Linked DNA regions of Homo sapiens. The protein of the gene in region 1 interacts with the protein of each later gene in a pairwise test. Each region holds a gene or a part of one and is shown on either strand. Other genes may lie near its edges.

Evidence for each region.
Region 2: the proteins of VSX2 (region 1) and NUP58 interact in binary tests that used the Homo sapiens proteins (3 or more experiments, as listed by UniProt).
Region 3: the proteins of VSX2 (region 1) and BAG6 interact in binary tests that used the Homo sapiens proteins (3 or more experiments, as listed by UniProt).

What each region holds. Positions count from the first base shown.
Region 1 is NC_000014.9:74,256,391-74,259,934, reverse strand, and holds part of VSX2 (visual system homeobox 2), read right to left. Parts: intron 334-3,544; coding exon 153-333; intron 1-152.
Region 2 is NC_000013.11:25,308,074-25,311,722, reverse strand, and holds part of NUP58 (nucleoporin p58/p45), read right to left. Parts: intron 2,477-3,649; coding exon 2,441-2,476; intron 1-2,440. UniProt on the Homo sapiens protein: Component of the nuclear pore complex, a complex required for the trafficking across the nuclear membrane.
Region 3 is NC_000006.12:31,646,130-31,649,778, forward strand, and holds part of BAG6 (large proline-rich protein BAG6), read right to left. Parts: intron 3,499-3,649; coding exon 3,381-3,498; intron 3,267-3,380; coding exon 3,070-3,266; intron 2,836-3,069; coding exon 2,782-2,835; intron 2,623-2,781; coding exon 2,548-2,622; intron 1,698-2,547; coding exon 1,462-1,697; intron 395-1,461; coding exon 265-394; intron 1-264. UniProt on the Homo sapiens protein: ATP-independent molecular chaperone preventing the aggregation of misfolded and hydrophobic patches-containing proteins.

The DNA.
Region 1 (3,544 bases):
CCAGGATAGACCAAGAGGTTTGCTTTGAAGAATTTCTCTCCTGCTAGGCTGCTGTGGCCCAAGTGCCCCTGCCTCAAGGCTCTGTCCCCTCCTCCAAGGAGCCCGCTCTCCTCACCGCAGGGCAGGACCCCAAGGAGGGTGCGGGCTCTTACCCAGTAGCCACGGGGCACAGGAGTCCATGATGCCATCCTTGGCTGACTTGAGGATGGACTCGGGCAGGGGGATGGAGTGCCGCACCATGGCCCCGTAGAGCCCATACTCCGCCATGACACTGCTCCGGCCCCAGCACTTCTCCCGCTTCCTCCACTTGGCTCGACGGTTCTGGAACCAGACCTGCAGGTGCACAGAACAGGTCAGAGGCTTGCTCTGAGAGGTGCTGGGCCCAAGGCCCTTACCCCTTGTAGGCTTGGAGTGAAGATTTCTCCAGCAGGGCGTCCTTAACCTAAGCTCGCCTACTCCATGGTGCCCTCTGTGTTCCTCCAGGCTCAGGGAGTATTCAGAAGGAGGACATCAGTCTTATGAGAATATCATGGGTAGTTCTAGGGAGATGGGGTATGGATGCTTCCTGGACAGGGTCTTGCAGGTGCGCAGGACCCAGTGTCATCGACTGTTTGCAGCTGAGAAGCCTGCCCTGCCACTGATGGCTCTCTTGCATGTGTTCACACCTCCAGCATATAAATCTTTTTTTCTGATTTGCAGAGGGACAAATTCCTTTCCCAGCACTGGACTAGCAGTGTCTCTGGCTCAGGGCTTCCTCTCTGCCAGAAGCCCAGAGTCACAACCATCCAGGAGGGCTGCAGGTGAGTGAGGGATCAGGGACAAAGGGCAGGGGACAGTCTTAGGGGCACTTCACCCAGGTATCAGGAAGGCTGGGAACTCAGGGAGGGAGACTCCCCTCGGAGGCCTGGGTCAGCCTGCCTCCTCCACCCTGTCCCAGCTAAGCTCTGCCAAACCACATGTGCCCTCCAGGTACCTGCTCCCCACAGCTCCGAGCCTAACTCTGAATAGTATTTGGGGAGCTGGACCAGGGATGAAGATAACATTCTCCAGGGTTGAGGAGCAAATGGGAGGAGGGACCTGGGAGGGAGTGGGGGCGGAGGAAGCACTAGCGAATGTGTCTCTGGCCCCAAAGCTGATTGGTGCAGGGTCTGAATGACAGTGGGGTACCCTGGGGTGTCTGCAGCACTCTAGCCCATTCTAGGATCCCAGAATCCCTGCCAAGTTTGAGGAGGGAACATTTCTTGGTCCCCCAGAGCAGCTTTCCGGAGATTTCCCGCAGCTGACAGAGCCGGGAGCCCCTCGCATTGTCCGCCAAGGAGGTCCAGGCCCGCGGGGTAATGGTGCGCCCCAAGCCTGGCGGTTCCCTTCTCGCCCCTCACAGTCCTTAAAGGCTCAGACCCCGGGGGCAGCGAGTCGCCCCAGGGAAGTCGAGGGAGTCGGGAGGGGAGGACCGAGGCGGGCTTGGGAAATCTGTTCATTTCCTCCCGATTTCCTTGCCTGGGTCTGGGCCGGCGCCGCCCTTCCCTCCGGGCCCCCTCCCCCGCGGCAGAGGTATCAGCTTTTAATGAAAAATTGCTCCAGCTCTATTCAGGAGGCGGCAAAAGAAGAGTCACCCCCAGGGGCAGCCCTGGGCTGATTGAAAAATAAGTTAATTTCAGTTTGAATCGATGGGCCTCAGGCACTGAAATACCACGGGAAATTAAAGCGGCTGCTCTCCCGGGAGCCGCGGCATTGACCCGCACTAATTAATGCTGGGGAGGCAGCACTCGCCTCGTCGCGAGCGCCCCCGCTTCCCCGGGGACCCCCAACTCTTCTCATTTAACTAATTAGACGGGGAAAATTGGGTGTTAATTTGTTTAGGATTTTCCCCCTTCCCCCCGGCAGCCCCTCGCGGCCCCCGCCCCGCGCGGCGCGGAAATGCATGCGGGCTCGGCGGCAGATGGCTGCCCGGGTCACGCTGCAATCTCCTCCGACTTGATTGCTTGATTAGGTCGTTAGCACATTAAAAAAAAATTGCTTGCCGTCTGGCGCTGGCGTGATGAGTGGGACGCTCGGCAGCGCCTGGGTAATTTATCTTTTTATACGGCGAAGAATTTGATTTCAATCTGCAGATATATGGGGCGCCTTTGACACCTGTTTAACATCGCGCCGCTGACAGCTTAACCCTTCGCTTCCTGGGGAGCGGGAGCTGGGGCCGGCGGGGCTCGGGGGAAGTGGGTGGGGGGTGGTCCGCGCGCTCCTGCGGTTCCCGCCGTTGCCGTCAGGTGGCGAAGTGAGCGCCCGGCGGCGCGGAGTCTGCGGCGGAGCGCGGCCGGCCAATCCCCGGCAGGGGCGCTCCGGCCCGCCAGCCTCGCATCCCACGGAGGTCACAGAACACTGCACGCGCACCTTTAAGTTGACCCAAACGCGTGTCCTCTGGCCTTTATTCATTTGTAAATAACTGGGAGCCTCTAAACATGGGAGCTACACGGCCTTAGATGCCCCCGGCCTCTCCCGCCCCGGGTGGCTCCATCCCCGTTTGGGCAGCACTTTTGCTGCCTCCGGGTTTGGCACCTGCAGTTCCCGCGCAAAACTGGGGGGCTGGGAAGCACAGGTGCAAGGCCTCTGCCTGGTCCGGACCTGACCACCCTGGGAGACCCCCGCCAAGGAAAGGGTTTGTGTAATCCGAAGGCCGCTAGATGACTGTCCTCCCTGCCCTGAAGGGAGTGGCAGCAATGCCAGCCGTGCTAACTCGGGCCTGCGTCCCGGCCTGGCTCCATGCCGTATGTAGATCTCCCCAGCGCCGCGGGCCTGTGCTGCAGGATGTGTGCCCGACTAGCTGTGTTACCCGGGGCCTGCGGTTTGTCTGGGGCCTCAATCCTGCCCCATCATCCTCCCCTTAGCGTATCTGCTTGCTGCAAGCTGCTTTCTCCCACAGAGGAAAAATCCAAAAGGACTAATCTACATAAAAGTATGACTCCCGGCCTGGCGCAGTGGCTCATGCCTGTAATCCCAGCAGTTTGGGAGGCCGAGGCGGGTGGATCACCTGAGGTCAGGAGTTTGAGACCAGCCTGGCCAACATGGGGAAACTCCATCTCTACTAAAGATACAAAAATTAGCCGGGCACGGTGGCGCACACCTGTAATCCCAGCTACTCAGGAGGCTGAAGCAGAAGAATCGCTTGAACCTGGGAGGTGGAGGTTGCAGTGAGCCGAGATCGTGCCACTGCACTCCAGCCTGTGCAACAGAGCAAGACTCTGTCTCAAAAAAAAAAAAAAAAAAAAAAGTATGACTCCCGGTTTTATCCACCTCTCAGAGAAGACAGCAAAGAATGAATCCCCTGGTGATGGAATTCCAGACACCAAGTGTGACCACAGAGGGCTGGAGAGGTTTGGTTCATGAATATAAGAAGCCACCTACTTCCTGGTCGGGTGACAGTCTGTCCTGCTTGAATACAGTGCATTATATTAGGTTGGTGCAAAAACTTATTGCAGTTTTTGCCATTGAAAGTAATTACTTTCGTTTGAGATGGAATCTTGCTCTGTCACCCAGGCTGGAGTGCAGT
Region 2 (3,649 bases), on another chromosome or scaffold:
CTATTCTTAAAATTATCTTGGTTACCTTAAAAAAAAAAAAAAAAAAAAAGACAGGTGCCGTGGCTCACGTCTGTAATCCCAGCACTTTGGGAAGCCAAAGTGGGCAGATCACCTTAGGTCAGGAGTTCGAGACCAGCCTGGCCAACATGGTGAAACCCCGTTTCTACTAAAAATACAAAATTAGCTGGGCGTGGTGGCGCATGCCTGTAATCCCAGCTACTCGGGAGGCTGAGACAGGAGAATTGTTTGAACCTGGGAGGCAGAGGTTGTGGTGAGCTGAGATCACGCCATTGCACTCCAGCCTGTGCAACAAGACCAAAACTCCGTCTCATAAAAAACAAAAACAAAAAGAAAACACAAACAAAAAACCCCCACAAATATCCTGGTGATTCTGCCCAATTTAAGGTTCCTATTAGCTCTAGATTGTCTTTAAAATAGAGTCTAAAGGCACGACATATACCTCCCTTTCCTATCTGGTCCCAACCTGCTCCTCAATTCTCAACTCTGCCCACCATTTCCACCTCTGATTTCTAAGCTCCAAAACCAAAATACTTCATATTTCCCAGAACGCTTTTATGACTGGGCCTTTGCACTTGCCACTCCTCTCTCTGAAGTGCTTCCTGCCCATAAAGTAAACCATACTGTTTTCTTCCTCTGCCTTTCATGGTGCCTCTACATCTTTTAGGACATTTATCGGATTATACAAGAACATGTTAATATACCTGCCTATCCCTTTCACCTCACAACAGACTGACTGTCTTGCTCCAACCCTTAGCAGTTCCCAATGTCATCATCAAGGACCATCCTCACCAGCAGTGCCACAATATTCAATGTTCAAGGCATTATGTAGACACAAGGCTGCATGGTTAGGAAGTAGTAACTGCTCAAACAATATTAAATAAAGAAATGTATGAATGACCTGCATGACTTAACCTGAAATCACTGAGAGAAAAGAAGCCAGAAACTATGCTTCTGGATTGCCCTGATCACAACTAGAAGTTCCTGCCAGAGTGCAGTGCTTTGAAATCACGTATGGGGTTACAACCTCAGAAAACAAGACTCAGGCTTGGTGTGGCTCAAGCCTGTAATCCCAGCACTTTGGGAGGCCAAAGAGGGCACGTGGCTTGAGGCTAGGAGTCCATGACCAGCCTAGGCAACATACTGAGACCTTGTCTCTACCAAAAAAAAAAAAAAAAAAAAAAAGGCCAGGCACAGTGGCTCACGCCTGTAATCCCAGCACTTCGGAAGGCCAAGGCGGGTGGATCACCTGAGGTTGGGAGTTCGAGACCAGCCTGACCAACATGGAGAAACCCCATCTCTACTAAAAATACAAAATTAGCCAGGCGTGGTGGCACATGCCTGTAATCCCAGCTACTCAGGAAGCTGAGGCAAGAGAATCACTTGAACCCAGGAGGCGGAAGTTGCGGTGAGCCAAGATTGCACCATTGCACTCCAGCCTGGGCAACAAGAGCAAAATTCCGTCTCTAAAAAAAAAAAAAAAAAAAAAAAAAAAAAATTAGCCAAGGGTTGTGGTATGTGCCTGTAGTCCTAGCTACTTGGGAACCCCAGAGAAGATCGCTTGAGCCCAAGAGTTTGAGGTTGCAGTGAGCTGTGATGGTGCCACTGCACTCCAGCCTGGGCAACAGAGGAAGAACCTGTCTGATAGGGGAAAAAAAAGCAAAAAAGAAAACAAGAAGATTCACTTGCTTGTGTTTGCAGCTGATCCAGTCCAAAACTTTGCTGATAAACAGATGTGTTGTTTTCTGTTAATAACAGGTGTAGCATCCAAATGAAGAAAGTCTGCCAATCCTTAACTTAAAACTCAATTTAAGAGCTTCTGAATGTTCTTTCATTTCCTTTTCCTTTCCTTTAACTTAAAATTCAATTTAAGAGCTTCTGAATGTTCTTTCATTTCCTTTTCCTTTCCTTTCACATTGTTTACTGCCATCCAGATTGAAAGCTGGCTGAAACCCTAGTTATTCACATTCCCTTTAGCGTTAACACTACAGAAAGTATTATGTCTTTGGATATTAGTTCAATACCCTCAATTTTATAGATAACTAAAAGCCCCAAACATTACCTAAGGCCTCACAAGTATTTTAGAGGCTTAATTCCAAAATTTCTGGCTTAAAGTTTGGTGTTTTTTCCACTAACTGGAGTCAAATGACTAAAAAAGTAATATGAAATAAACTTCCACATTAAAAACAATTTCTGCATTTAAAATACTTTTCTGAATTATAAAAGTACTCTACGAAGTCATTCCTTTTTTTCACTACTCAAATACTGAAAGGTTCTCCGATAAGTCACCATCTGTGATACACACTTTTTTCTATACTCCAGCTCTGTGAAATATTAGAAGAGAGAAGAGTAGAAAGATCACTCAATTTATTAAAATTATTAGAAGACCACAGAGCTGGGATCTTTCCTCAAAAATTCTTACCCAGAGTTAATCCTGTAGTTATAGTTGTTGCTATTCCTGGGGACAAAAAGAGAAATAAAATTTAATCATCAATGAAGATGACATTCTTTAGGTTTACCTGTCATAAGGGAAAGACTTAAAATCACCCTCAGGGAGTGACAACACTTCTAATTAGAACAATACATATCATAGTATCTGCCACTAATCACGCATTTTTCCCATAGCACTGGTTTTCATATTACAAGCCATACATAATTTGATTAAGGAATAAAATTTATAAAATGCAAATAACTATTGCTTATAACAAAATTAAGCAAGACCAAAAAAAGCAACTCCAAACAAAATGCTATACTGAGCTGTCTCAAGCAGCTCACTGACTAATCTGCTCATATTTATTCCTGTAGTTCTTCCATTTTCTAGATGTGGCTGTGAAATGTGCTGCACTCAAAGCTGGAAGATCAACGCAAAAAGTAGTAAGAATGACCAAGAGGCTCTAAGGGTAGAAAATAAGGGGTAAATAAAGAAGCAAACTTTTTAAATGGTCAGCTCCAGTGAAACATTATTTTTCCAGCTGTACTAAAAACAAAAACTTTCTATTGTTTTGAAACCTTCAAGTCCTTTACCTATTGCCCTTTTCCCACTTTGTTTTAATAATACAAAAATGTAAAACATCTCTTAGGAACGTAAATTATAGACCAGGCATGGTAACTCAGGCCTATAATCCCAGCACTCTGAGAGGCCAAAGCAGGAGGATCACTTGACCTCAGGAATTTAAGACCAGGAGGAGACCTCTTCTCTACAAAAAGTAAAAAAGTAAAAAAAAAAAAAAAAAAATTAGCCAGGCGTGGTGGTGCACACGTGTGGTCCCATCTACTCAGGAGGCTGAGGTGGGAGGATCACTTGGGCCCGAGAGGCTGCAAGGCTACAGTGAGCCATGATCATGCCACTGCACTCCAGCCTAGACAACAGAGCAAGACTGTGTATCTAAAAAAAGAAAAAAAATAGAAATTATGTTACAGTAAGGGTGCTGATTATCTCACGTATGTTAATGTTCCAAATTGATAAAGCTGGCTTAAACCACAATCTCCACTAAGGAAAAACACTACATTATATAATCCAAAAATTTAAATTAATATTTGTATGTTTTCCTTCGTTATATCAGAGTAGATGACAGTCAATGATTGGGCCTATCACTAGCCCTTAATTCCAATTCCTTGCATTTCTTTTCAT
Region 3 (3,649 bases), on another chromosome or scaffold:
TGTGCACCACTACATCCAGCTAATGTTTATATTTTCAGTAGAGATGGGGTTGCACCATGTTGGCCAGGCTGGTCTCAAACTCCCAATCTCAGATGATCCGCCCACCTTGGCCTCCCAAAGTGCTGGGATTACAGGCGTGAGCCACTGCACCTGGCCCTGTTGCAATGTTTTTCCAGGGAGGGAAAGAGTTATCTGCATTTCAGCCTGTTCTGTTTTGGGAGTACTGGGGCTGAGGAGAAAGGGCAGGGCCATCAAAGGGCTCACATTGTTATTGTAGTCCGTGGTGGCAGCAGCACCCAGAACCTCGTAGTAGCGCTGCAAGAAGGGCTGGAGGCGACTCTCCAGCCGCTGTAGCTCCTGGAGCACCTCGACATACTCCGCAGGGGAAGGATGGCTGTGGACAAACCCAAGGGGCAATGAGCCAAAGCCTTCCTCAGATTCCCACCCTCACAGTCAACAGGGACCACATGTGCCCTCTTTCTCCCTGGTCTCCCAGAGCCCTGGCCCAATCCTTCTCTGGACCAGCAGAGCTTCTATTCTCTTCAACCTCCGCCTCCCAGGTTCAAACGATTCTCCTGCCTCTGCCTCCCAAGTAGCTGGGATTAAGTTGCCTGCCACCACACCCGGCTAATTTTTGTTTTTTTTTTTTTTTTTTTTTTTTTGAGACAGAGTCTCGCTCTATCACCCAGGCTGGAGTGCAGTGGTGCGACCTCAGCTCACTGCAAGCTCCGTCTCCTGGGTTCACACCATTCTCCTGACTCAGCCTCCCGAGTAGCTGGGACTACAGGTGCCCGCCACCATGCCCAGCTAATTTTTTGTATTTTTAGTAGAGACGGGGTTTCATCATGTTAGCCAGGATAGTCTCGATCTCTTGACCTCATGATCCACCCGCCTCGGCCTCCCAAAGTGCTGGGATTACAGGCGTGAGCCACTGTGCCCGGCCTGTATTTTTTAGTAGAGACAGGGTTTCACCATGTTGGCCAGGCTGGTCTCGAACTCCTGACCTCAGGTGATCTGCCCGCCTCTGCCTCCCAAAGTGCTGAGATTACAGGCATGAGCCACTGCACCCAGCCAAAGCTTCTATTCTTTACTCCCACCCATGAGAGGATAGGGAGAAGAAAATGAACTGCTCCCACCCTCCCCACCACAATCCTGCACCTACAATGGTGAAAGACTAATTCTAAGAAAGAGAGCAGGCCTTCGTGAACTCAGAGGAGAATTCCGATCAGGCTCAGGAGATACCATTTGGATTTCCTTGCCGTAGGGAGAGCAGCAGTTCTTCTCAGCTGCCTGTCCTAGCGTCATTTACCTATACCGAGAGAGCCCCTCCTCGCCCCTCAATGCTAACCCTTCAACTAAGACCTCCAAGTAATCCTTTCCCTCCCTTGCCATGGTTCATTTCCTTCTCCCCATACTTCACTTAGGATTCCCCACCCACTAAAGATTCCCTCCATCTCTCACTTGGGTGCATTTGTTTCCGGGGCAGGTGTTGGGCCCGCTGGGGCTGGGCCAGGAGTGAGCTCCGGGTTCTGGGCTGGGGCACGCTCCTCCACTTCTTCTGCCTCCATGGGCTCCCGGGGAGGTGCTTCACTTTCAACTGGTTCTGATGTTTGAGAGCTCAAGGCTACTGGCTCCGGGGTCACAGCCGGTGGCTGCGGGGGCGGCTGACTGTGCTGCGGTTGGGGCCCTCCTCGACACTGAAGGTAGGGGAGAGTCAGGATACCAAAGGCAGGGTAAGACTGCTGCAGAGGATTACTCTACAGGAGACTGAACAGAGAAAGTATCCTAACTAGACTCCCTGAAGGCATGGCTCTGCAATTTTATCTCCGACTCGCTAGCAACTAGCATAAGACTGACACAAATTAGATGCATAATAAGCATCTGTAATTTTTTTTTTTTTTTTTGAGACAGAGTCTCGCTCTGTTGCCCAGGCTGGAGTGCAGTGGCATGATCTCAGCTCACTGTAACCTCCGCCTCCCAGGTTCAAGAAATTCTCTTGCCTCAGCCTTCTAAGTAGCCAGGCCTACAGGCGCGTGCCACCACACCCAACTAATTTTTGTACTTGTAGTAGAGACAGGGTTTCACCATGTTGGCCAGGCTGGATTGGAACTCCTGACCACACGTTATCCCCCTGCCATGGCGACCCAAAGTGCTGGGATTACAGGCAGGAGCCACCACACCCGGCCACAGCATCTGTAATATTTGTAAATAAATTTCTAACAAAGAGTAGAGATTGTGGTTTCCTTTCCTCCACAAGTTGGTTTCCCAGCCTCCACAAGTTAAGAGAGTAGAATCCTTTAATTGAAAAGAGATGCCATGAGACTAAGTCTGAAACAAACTCCCCAGATACCAGGCACCAAGAGGATTGGCAGAAATGAGAGAGCCTCACAAAGATACTTTTTCTGCCCAAAAGAATGAATACTGCAGAGAAGACTAGATTATGAAGGCCAAACCCTGTGGATGTGGCCAGTGAAGCCCTAACTCCCAGGCTGAGAGAAAAGGGAGAGGGAGGGTGGAGAGAGACCCTAGCCAGCCTTGCCCACTTACCTCCATCCGGGATAGTAAGGTCTGTATATCCCTGATCATGTGCTGAGCCATCACCAGCCGTACCCGGGGCTCACTCTACAATGAGAGAAGGTTTATCAGGGTAGGTTACAGATGAAGCCATGAGTTCTACCACCTACTAAATCAGGTCCCAGCCATCTCTCAGCCAGGTCCACCCCACCTCCCAGCCTCCTTCTCCCAGATCCCCTTCCCTGACCCTCGGAGGCCCCTCAATACCTGAATCGGGGCCTGTTCCATGTTGATGTGAACATCCACAGCAGAGCCGTCACTCTGGGGAAAGGGTAAGGGAAGTTGTTCTGGGAGAAGCCAACACTAAGGCCTCCACACCTCCAATTCATTCCCTGGAGCCCTACCTCCTTTTCTCCTTAAAGACTGAGACCAATAGCACACCACAGGGCCCCCTGAACCCAATCTAAAGATGGAAGCATCTATCTTATTAATTCCCTGGTGCTACCACAACCAAAGCTACCCACAAAAGCCCTCCCCTGTGGAACATAAGCTTACAGGAAGATTGAAGGTTCCAACCATGACATAGCTGTTGGCATTCCGGTCATGAACAGAGGCCCCAGGCCCCCGAGTACCAGGGGGGGATCCCCCACCATGAGTGGCTGAGGCAGACCCCGTCCCAGAAGATGCCCCAGAAGGGAGGTGAGTCTGAGGAGGAGCCCGTTCCACCAGGTGGATAACCTTTCCCCCAACATCTGCAGAAAAATAGACACACACCAAAACATAGTATGAACAGGTAAACCCATGGCCTCAGTTCATCCCTCCAGACAGTAGCCCCAACCTCTGAACTGCCTCCCCAGCCCCCTTACTGTATTCCTGAAGCTTCTTATCATCTTGCAGAACTCGTCCCTGGTAAATGAGCCGTTGTTTTTCAGATGGGATGCTGACAGAGGCAGCAATGTGCTCCTTAAACTCTTTTACATTCATCTGAAAAGAAGAGGCATGCACAGGAATGGAAAGAATGGAGGAAAGAGGAAGAACAAAGACAGACAACCGAGTTGTGGAGGTGAGGGGTAAAAACCACCACAGAATCACTACCCGTTTGTCTTGACCGTGAGATCATTACTGTGCAAACCCT